Regions from separate parts of the Homo sapiens genome. Here region 1 is linked to region 2. The links come from fine-mapping of genetic effects on gene expression. A gene starts in region 2. The other region holds a variant in brackets. All regions are shown on one strand. Distances are between the middles of the regions.

Region 1 (5,385 bases), 24 kb before region 2:
ATTTGAGCCTTTTGCAGTTGAGGGACCTTTGGTAACTCTGGTGTTGATGTCTAGGAGATTTGAGATGCTGATCTAGAGCCCAGGAGAAGGGAGAACAGAGCTGGATTGGGGATTATTAGCCTATGGGTGGCACTTTAAGACATGGGAATGCATAAGGTCATCGAGGAAAAAAGAAGGAGAAGATAGAATCCTTCGAATAATCACAGGGAAGCAAGAAAAGCTAGATATCGTGGAAGCTGGGAAAGAAAATATCTCAGGAAGCAGTACATGTCCTTTTGATTTTTGATTTTAGCAACTTGGGAATATTTAGCACCATTGCAACAGCACTTTCGGTGTATGCAACAGAAATATAAGCCAGATTGCTACATGGAAGGAAAGGAAAGAAGGAAAGAAAGAAAATATTACAGGTGTGGTGGTTTGTTTTGAAAAGATCATAGAAAGAAGGAGAGACAGAAGGTAGTAGTTGAACAAAAGTATAGACTCTGGTGAGGTTTGTTCATTTTTAGGATAGAGCGCTGTAACATGTTTTATACAAACCAAATTAGGCAGTAAGAAGGGAGAAGCTGAAAATAAATGTAAAAAAGCGGGGATGATTTATAGGTCAGCTCTCAAAAGATGTAAGAAGAAATGAGTTATTATAGGACAAACGGAGTATGAGGTGTTCAGCTTCCAGTAGGAAGGGGGCAGTTCTTTCATTGTTAAAGGAGAGAAGTAACAAAGGGTGTATGTGTGTTGGGGCATGGGGGGCGGTAAGAGAGAAAGGGAGAGAGAGAGAAACATGAGATTCTCTGCAAAATTTGTAATAGAAAGAAAGGAGAGTTCCCAAACTGAGACTTCTGTGCATTGGAGGTTTATGAGGACAGAAGATGATTTGAAATAGCTGTTGTAGAAAAAGGGGGAAGGAAGTTTTGTAAGAAGGATTTATGGGTAGAGGTGAGGGCCTGGTTGAAGTTAGATGTGATGTATTTATAGTGTCATTAATCTGTGTGATTGTGCAATTCTCTCCACCAGAGCTCAGCCATCCAGGTGAAGGTACAGAGATAGATGATCCCAGTTTGACATGCAGGTAAAATGGGAGGGAAGTGGGCAAGGCCATTGAAAATATGGTCAAGGAATAGGTGGCCTTTGACATATATGCTGGGTTGGAATTCATGGGTAGGAGTTTGAATGTAGAGATTGTCTTTGTTTTTTTGAACCAATGTCAGAGTTGAGTAGTTGCAACAGAGACTATATGGCACATGAAGTCTAAAATATTTACCTGCACTTTTACAGGAAAAAATTGCCAACCCCTTCTATAGAACATTAGCTACCTAATGACTTCATATAACACATATAAAGGCAATTAATGATCACGATGATTGATAATGATAATGGCTAATAATGGACTGCTTACCCTGCGGTGGGCATTGTGCCCAGAGTCATCATGTAGATTATTTCATTTAAAACCCTCACAGCAGCCTCTGGTTTAGAAAGGAGGAAATGGAGGCAGAAAATCTGAGTGGGAGAACCAAGGTTTAAGCCCAGGGAATAACTCCAGAGCTCATGTTCTATGCACTTTACCATCTTACCATTGTAGTTTTCATAATTGAGAATCCTAAGCAATGTATCAAACTAACAAAACTGTGGATCAGAAATCAGAGTTCTGCTATTAATTCAATTGCTTTTTAGTTCCAAATGAACATAATATGATACATTTTAAAACTTCACAAGGAGCATTATATAACAAAGCTTAAAGCAAACTTCTGAATGATGAAAACATTTTCAATTCTTAATGTAGGGAGTGTTTGCTGGAGGCAGATTATCTCACCTGCTTATTAACTCATATTTTGGTTTTAAAGAGGCGCCATCTGACAGGATCCAGTAGTCAGGATTAGGTGTAGCTTTAAAACTGCTTGCACATTGAAAAAGAAAATAATAGTTCTATGGCATATCTGGTTCAGGCTTAATTTGCAAGCCAGTTATTGCCGCGGGAACATGCACGTGGTCTAGGGAAAATGCTCATTCAATGAGGATGAACAAGGGCGGTTTCCAAGCGGGCCAAGTTCACTGGAAAATTGTGCTTCAGAGATTTCCATGTCAGTCAGCACTCCAAAATGAAAAGGTCAAAATCAAAAGGAATGAAACACAATCACAAACATCTCCATCATTTGCCTGAGATTTCATGTTTTCTGTCAAACAGTGCTCTTGGTAATTCTATGCCGGTGTGATAGACACAGAAGATGAAATAGACTAAAAAGACCCACTAATACTGCTGTTAATGAGTGAAGAGGAAATGAGGTAAACACCAACGCCATTAAAGTGGTTCTACTTTAGTAAGTAGCATTGAAAGATTTTGAAATTTTGAAGAATAAAGGATTCTTTGGCATCTTTAAATTGTCCTGTCCCCTGCCTCCTCACTTTTCTCAGAAGGAATCTGAATTTCCTAGAAATTCTTCTGTCTTCTTCTTTTTCTCATCCTTGTCTTATCCATCATCTCCAGCTTTAGCAGTTTAGCTTAATTGTCATTTTCCCTAAAACGCTCATTAGCCACAGCCATTTTTTTTTTTTTTTTGAGTTGGAGTCTTGCTTTGTCGCCCAGGCTGGAGTGCAGTGGCATGATCTCAGTTCACTGCAAGATCCACCTGCCGGGTTCAAGAGATTCTCCTTCCTCAGTCTCCCGAGTAGCTGGGGCTACAGGTGCCTGCCACCACTCCCAGCTGATTTTTGTATTTTTAGTAGAGACAGGGTTTCACCATATTGGCCAGGCTGGTCTTGAACTCCTGACCTTGTGATCTGCCCACCTTAGCCTCCCAAAATGCTGGGATTACAGGTGTGAGCCACCATGCCTGGCCAACCACAACTGTTTTTTAATTTGCTTGAAGTTGCGTAGCATTATGTTCTTCACCATGGAGGAAATGACTCTTCCTTGGCCTCGCCCATCTTACAGTCATGCTTCCTTTCTTCTACTTCCCTTTCCTGG[A/C]ATAGTAAGTTGAACATGAAATCAACGGAACAACTGCTTAGTTGTGCAAGAGAAGCTTCAAGGAGGACAAAGATGAGGCAGGCGTAGTTATTCTCCTTAAATGATCTTACAATCCAGTAGGAGGGATTAGACAAGAGTAAAAAATAACTCAGTTACAAGGAGGAGCGTGATAATTTCTATTAAAATAGTTTCAACAAATTGCAGTAAGGGATAAAAATGGTAAGAGAGATCATAGGTACAAATTGTGTCACGTCACTCTTTTGGTTTTTATTTTTTTCCTATGATGCTCCCCGGCTGATGAGAAAAGTTCCAAAGCACGATGTGCAGGTTAAACATACCCGTGGACAGCCTGAGCTGATGGAAATGCTCCAGCCTCACCCTCTGTCATCACCAACACACATGCACTCAGGCCTCCCTGGCCCACTCACCATTCCTCAAACAATTCAGATTCTTTCTGGTTTTCACACCTTTGCACTTGCTGCTCCTTTTGCTTAAAATGTGCTTCCTTTCTCTTTTTCTTTTTCTTTTTTTTTTTTTTTGAGATGGAGTCTCGCTCTGTTGCCCAGGCTGGAGTGCAGTGGCTCCATCTTGGCTCACTGCAACCTCCGCCTCCCAGGTTCACACCATTCTCTTGCCTCAGCCTCCTGAGTAGCTGGGACTACAGGCGCCCACCACCATGCCCGGCTAATTTTTGTATTTTTAGTAGAGACAGGGTTTCCCCTTGTTAGCAGGATGGTCTCGATCTCTTGACCTTGTCATCCACCCGCCTTGGCCTCCCAAAGTGCTGGGATTACAGGCATGAGCCACTGCATCCAGCCCTCTTTCTGTTTTTCAAACTCCGGTTCATCCTTGAAAACTTTCTTAAATTTTACCACTTTTTGGTGCTTTCTAACAGTTCCCCAATCAATATAATTTGCTTCTTCTTCCAAGCATGTTACTTTGCATTGCGTTTCTCACAGCAGTCATCATATTAAATTACAAGTATTTGTTTAGAGAATGCTTTCCTCATTCAACTGTGAGCCCAATGGAAGCAGGAGCTGTGACTGGCGTCTTTGTATGGCAAATGCTTAGCACACTGGGTTACAGCAGCTGATGGAGAAAAGCTAAGAAATACCGGGTGTTTGAAATGTGGTTTGAGCCCTGGATAGGATTTGACACACATGTGAACAAAGGCACGAGGCAGGAAATGTTCTGATGACTGATTTGCTTTCAGCCTCCCAGAACCTGCTGCGACATTTCTCTGGGACATGCTCTCTTCAGCTAAGTGTTATTCTGCTCTTTTGAGTGAGGGTCTCATTCTGTCTCCCGGCCTGGACTGCAATGGCATGATCATAGCTCACTGTAGCCTTGAATTCCTGGGCTCAAGGGATCCTCCTGCCTCATCCTCCTGAGTAGCTAGAACTACGCGTGTGCATCGTCAGGCCTGGCTAAATTTTAAAATATATTTTTGTAGAAACGAGGTCTCCCTTTTTCGCCTATGCCAGTCTCAAACTCCTGGACTCAAGGGCTCCTCCTGCCTTGGCCTCCCAAAGTTCTGGGATTACAGATGTGAGCCACTGAGTGCAGCTAAACATTATTCTGCTCTTAAACTAGGTTTTTCTTCTGTTTTATCAACTGTTGCTTGTGTCCCGGGCTCTGTTTTCTGGTAAAAACTTGATAGAGTAATCAGTGCTAAATGTTAGTGTATACATATAACACATAACTGTTTGTGTCTACATATAAAATACACTTTACCTGCTCATTTCGCTAAAGCAAAATCAGTCATAGGTCAGACATTGTGTTAAAAAAAAGTATCTATAAAGACGTGGATGTCAGTCTTTCTCATTACCCTCAAAGAAAGTTTCTCATGAAAAAATTTGGAACTAGAAAAGCATTTATTCTATTTTCTGGCAATTCTGTTAGACAAAGAATTCTGTAAACTTTGATGACTCTTTCACACGGATACTAGCAAGCTCAGGGTTAAATTTCCAGTCATAGAAATTCAGATGTTTTTAGCTAAAAAAAAAATTTATTTTGCTTACTTTTCTCATTGTTTTATTCAGTCAGCATTTATTTATTGAGTGCCTACTATGTGCTAGGCACCTCTTTCATAGGCCAGGGACATAGCTGGAAAGAAGATAGATTCTCTGTCCTAGGGAGTTAAGATTCTAAGAAGAGAAAGGACAAAGGTAGTAAATTGAGAAAACATTTCAAGTTCAAAGCTTTTTATACTTGGTTTGATCTGCATTTTCTTAATTGATTTTGGGCAATTGTACTATGCTTTTATTGCATACAGCCTCAAACTAGCTTTGAAAGTTGTTAGGGTGCAGACATATAAGATAAAATGAAGTGCACATTCGCATGTTAATGTTCACATCTACAGACCACTGTTGTTTTGGGGGGCACACCCTTGGCGGGGAGGGTGGTGAAAGTCACAAGAGGAGAAC
Region 2 (5,385 bases):
AATACAATGGTGGAACAGGAATAGGGTACCAGTTACAGATATTCCTGTTCACAAAGGGAGAAAATGGAAGGAGAAAAAGCCAAGAAATTTCAAAAATCTGCAAGGCTAACTCCATAGGTTTTAAGGCCTGTGAATAACCATTTGTGTCTCTAGGCTCTGCCCTCAGAGTCATCCTTCATGAAAGATAGCACAAGTTTGGGGCTGAATAGTTTTATCAGACTGTTTATTGCTTATGGAATTTTGGGAGTCCTATAACCGTCTTTCATTTTATTCTCTCTCTGTACCTTTCAGTTCAAGCTGGCAGTGTTTCTGCTGATATTCTCAGAAATCTTTTGGATTTCCTGTGTATGTCACAGAGATCTTTTTGAAGCACTAGCAAAAGGTTGTCCAGCTGTACTCATGACTTTTTCTCCAGAGTACGTTTTCCCAGCAGTGAGTCTCTTACTTTTACCATCCTTTGCAGTCTTGAAATCCTGATAATTTCCCACATTATCCTTGTCCTGGTTCCTTTTTGATAATAGTCCTTCCCTCTTATAAGGACCCTTCTGATTATATCAGGTCCCCAGATAATCCAGGGTAATTTCCCCATCTCAAGATTCTTAGGAATATCTGCAAAGTTCTTTTTGCAACAGAAGATGACATATTTATAGGTACAAGGATTAGGACATAGATGTCTTTGGGAGACCATTATTCAGTCTACCACAGCTGTAAATAGAGAGAGGTTAACAATATAGGAATGGAGTGAGATTCCTGAGGAAGCTGGAGGTAACCAACTCAAAAGGGAGTGGTTATATTGTATGTGGAGCATGTCATGGGCTTCTTGGACTAGATGGAGGTGTCAGACAGTTAAAAGGAGTCTCTTTAAAACAGATATATTCTTAGTGGACTTGAAGAGAACAGCAAGATGCTGTAGGGTTTTAAGGGCCACTGTAAAAAAGATCAGGAACCTATAGTCATAAACAGTAAATCTGAGGTGAAAAATATTAGACAATTTCCTTCAATGTCCTGGTAAGGGCAAAAAATGGTTTACTAGATTGAGGTGATCAAGTTGCAGTGAAGGTGCAGAGGAAAGAGAGTGGATGAAGCAGTTGAGAATGTTAGTGAGAGGAAGGTTCAGTGCCTGTTCACAGAGTTGATCCTGGGGAGGTGAAAGAGTGGGGCTCCTAAGGAGACTGAGAGATTGAGGCAAGGGGGAAGTCTCTAAAAAGTGGAAATGGAGTTTATGATTTTCAAGTTTCTGGATAATGTCCAGGCTGGAGTTATGGTAACATATTATTAAAGTGGAAGAGAACTGGATATTGATTTGGAGTAGAGTCTGCTTATGTGCATTGTACATATACTTTGCGGTGGGAAGTGGGATGTGTGGAGTTAACATCTAGGGAATCCCCACCTGATACATCTATATCTTTAAGAGAGAAAAACAACAGCAGACAGTCAATTATATTAAGAACATGTAGGGCCCACTTCTACAACCAAAAGAGGAAATCCCCATTAAATTGTATGTGCTTTGGGGGAGGAATAATGACACTGTAGTATTTAAAAGAACTGGAATGAGATAATATATACAGAGAATATTGTAGATATTATCTTTGGAATTAAATTTTGAAGTCTTGGCTACCATTAACTACCTGTAGGGTCATCGACAAGTAATTGAATTCTCTAAGCCTTATTTACCTCATCCATAAAATAGCAACAGTAAAGTTGCTCATGGGATTTCTGTGAGATTTAATGTGATAATACATGTTAAGGGCTTAGCCTATTGCCTGGCACATAAAAAGCTCAATGAATGCTTTTACAGCAAAGCCCAATTTTCTGCTGCTAGCAAATGCATTCTTATGATACAAAGGTCCAGTATCAGATGCTAGAGAGGAATTCATCTGAGATGAACTCATGACTTAATCATGAGTCATTTCAGGTTCTTTCTCAATGTCATCCTCATTGAGAAAGAGAATCATAACTATTTTCAACCAAACATAAAATTAAAGAAAAATCCTGACAGAAGTGAGCAATGTTTTCACCTCCTTTTCGAAGCCACTTTATATTCCAGAGTCTGAGAAAAAACTTTGTTCTTCTGGGCTCTTTCTATTGTGAACAAGTCACTTCCACCCTTTCCTTTTCTTGAAGACAGAACTTCCGGTTTCGATTTCTCTCCATTTATTACCCCATGCCGTTACTGGGGCACCCTCACCACCACCTTGAATCTCAATATATTCTGCACATGCATAACGTCATGGAATTAAGCGTCTGGAGCACTAAAGACCATGATGGGCTGGGGTTGAAACTCGAATTTCAAACATTAATGAGCTTGATGACAAAACTAAAGAGCATTCTTCTTCTCAATTTAAATTCTCTGTGATAGATGATTGGTCTTTCAAATGTTCACACTGGACAGTTATACTATTGGAAATTTTTCATAAAATGAACTTCTTAGGACAGAAACTCAAAGCCCCTAATCCTTTTTTACTCCATTTTTGCCTGTCCAGTACCTTGCCAGAAAAGAAAAACGCCACACCTCACCGCAGACTTTCATAGTGCTTAGCGTGCTGCATTTACTCTCAGCCTCAATTCCTTGTTTAGAGTCCCAGATTTCTCTGCTTTCTTTCCCTTTACAATTACATGCATGTCCCAGATAGCATATCATCGCTTCTACTATTACTTCCCTAAGATTCTCAGAGTAAACCAATGCAGACCTATATTCTACCTCCAGAAAACTGCGGAAATCGAAAAGGCCTCGCGGTGGAGAAAAGAAACCGAAACTAACTCCCTAGATAAAAACTCAGGCGCTGGCTGCTGTGTGGCTCAGAGCGCCCAGTCCGACGCCAGGCTCTGCGCTCGGTCTCCTCTGCTCCACCTCCTCCCCGCGGGGCGTGCAGCTCCGAAGCTCTTTGGACCTAGCAGGTTCGGCGGCCGGGGTGAGGATTGCGGGTGACGTCGGGTGTCGCTAGGGACCCTGGAGCGGAGCTGTCCCGCGGGGGTTCTAGGATTCCTTCAACATCCAGATGGACCGGGCGGGGAGGTGGCCTGGTGGCTTCGTGCGCGCCGGGCGAGGGAAGCTGGGGCGCCCACTGGGCTCGGGCGGCAGCTTCGCGGAGAGGTAGGGAAGAGGGACAACCACCGTGAGAGAGGAGAGTGCTCAGGCATTTAACGGGTCCTCTGCACCCGAGGGGGCCTGGGGATCTGGGGTGCTGAGGAGAAAGTAAGGGTCACCACATCTGAGCACAGCCATTCGAACCTGGACATTGACAGGCAGCAAGCCGCTTCCCTTTTTTCCGTCTTGTATTTAAGCTTTTTTTTTTTTTTTTTTTTTGAGTCAGTCTCGCTCTGTCGCCCAGGCTGGAGTGCAGTGGCGTTATCTCTGCTCACTGCAACCTCCACCTTCCGGGTTCACGCTATTCTCCTGCCTCAACCTCCCGAGTAGCTGGGACTACAGGCACCCGCCACCACGCCCGGCTAATTTTTTTTTATTTTTTATTTTTTATTTTTAGTAGAGACGGGGTTTCACCATGTTAGGCCAGGATGGTCTCGATCTCCTGACCTCGTGACCCGCCCGCCTAGGCCGCCCAAAGTGCTGGGATTACAGGCGTGAGCCACCGCGCCCGGCCGGATTTAAGCTCTTAATAGCGGAAATAAGGTTTTACTATTTCTCTGGAAAGGTACTTTGTTCTTTTTTCCCGCTTCTCTTTTGTTTACAAAGTTACATTGATAAATTTATAATAAACTTCTCAAGGTTTTCCATAATCAAAGAAGCTGACATCATCCGTGATGGGGCCTTAAGGATTATGAAAGCTCCTAATGACTGCTAGAAAAAGCGGTCAGAACCAAACAGAAGCAAGTCCTTTAAAGACACAATAAGAAGTCCAAACCATAACATCAACGACATACAGACCTTCATGATTTCGAGTGTTCTCCTGAAAACAGTAACATACCATTCAATCTAAGATTTGCAGTTTGAAGTTTGGTGGAACTCAGGTGCTGAGAGTTGAGGGTACTAAAATAAATGAGGGTGAGTTATGCTTCCAAGGCTCTTCGCCTTCTATCCCAAAGATATTGGGGATAGTTTAGTGTGAATCCTTCCTGATACTCTACAAAGAGACAAGTTTTTGTCTATAGCTCCTATCTCTCTATCCATCCATCCATCCATCCATCCATCCATCCATCCATCCATCATCCAGCCATCCAACCATCCGTCCATCCATCGATCCATCATCTGTCTATCTCTAGATCCATACACTTTAAAAGATATTTTGGCTGTCATACTGGTATGCTTTTCTTGGTTCATGATTTATTGGTACCTGTCAGTCTTACTTAGTAATTGCTGTATGATACCCCATGGTATGCTGGGTCATAATTGATCAGTTTTATTTGAAGCAGAAGAGAAAGACATAAAACAAAAATTAAATGCCCTTCTCTACTACTTTCCCCTTCATACTTAGTCTCACAGTTTTAGTTCTCCTGAGGCGTTACCACTCCAAAGATATACATTTCTTTCTTGGTTGCTTATAAATTATATGCTTACAAATCAGTCTTTTGTTTTATCTACTTTAGACAGACTCCGACGACTCCCTGTGAAAGAAATACTTCTAATATGAATTATATATTTTTAAAAATTCTTCTCAGGATTAGCTTTATGGCTTTTAATAAAATACCCATGTTAATTATCATCCACGGCTATGTTGATGTGGGTGGAAATCTCTGTGGTTTTCCCTGCTGCAGGCTCATTTTCTGCTTTGTAAGTATGGAGACCTGCTGGTTGATTTACTGATATCACCCTTTTTTATAACCTGCTGCTTGTTTTACTGATGTAACCATTTTTAAGGCAGCTCATAGTTTATTTGGAAATACAATTCTCTAAGAAATGTATCCAGCTTCTTATGCTCTAGTTAGTTCCCTATGCCGTTAATTACACCCAGAGAGTTTCTATTTTCATCCTAATTCCCTCTCAAATTAGCATAATCTGTCTTAAGTTCATTTGAAATGATAGTCTGGCCTGGGAGGGTAACACCTCCACCTAATACTTGCAGCAAGGCTAAGTCCTTCTGTTTAACTGAGAATTCTTTATGAGTCTTTGTTGAGCAAGGTGTTTTTTTTCTTTTTTTTTTGTCCTATCACTTTTTATTTGCAGTACAGAAGCTGTCACCTGTGCGACCCAAATTTCTTGGCTCCCTTCCTTCTTCTCCTCTTTTCCCCTCCCCTCCCCTCCCCTTCGCTTCCCTTCCTTTTTAAAATAGGGATGTGGTCTCATTTTGTTGCCCAGGTTGGTCTCCAACTCTTGGCCTTGAGCAGTCCTCCCACATCAGCTTCCCAAAGGGCTGGGATTATAGGTATGAGGCGCTGTGTCCAGCCAATTCTCTTCTTTCCAGCTCTGCTTTCATACCACCCAGTTCC

Evidence for each region.
Region 1: its variant is fine-mapped to the expression of DDX60L in whole blood (TOPMed, PIP above 0.99).

What each region holds. Positions count from the first base shown.
Region 1 is chr4:168,501,760-168,507,144 of GRCh38, reverse strand. All of the region lies in intron 1 of PALLD (palladin, cytoskeletal associated protein), which reads right to left. The region is part of intron 1 of LOC107986198 (a long non-coding RNA gene); the gene reads left to right. Among named protein-coding and RNA genes, the nearest start is that of PALLD, 7.4 kb to the right of the region's middle. The variant A/C (reference allele first, on the strand shown) is at 2,960.
Region 2 is chr4:168,477,904-168,483,288 of GRCh38, reverse strand. DDX60L (DExD/H-box 60 like) reads left to right here and starts at 2,797. Exons shown (of 38, transcript NM_001012967.3): 1 at 2,797-2,912. RefSeq lists an enhancer at 2,539-2,778.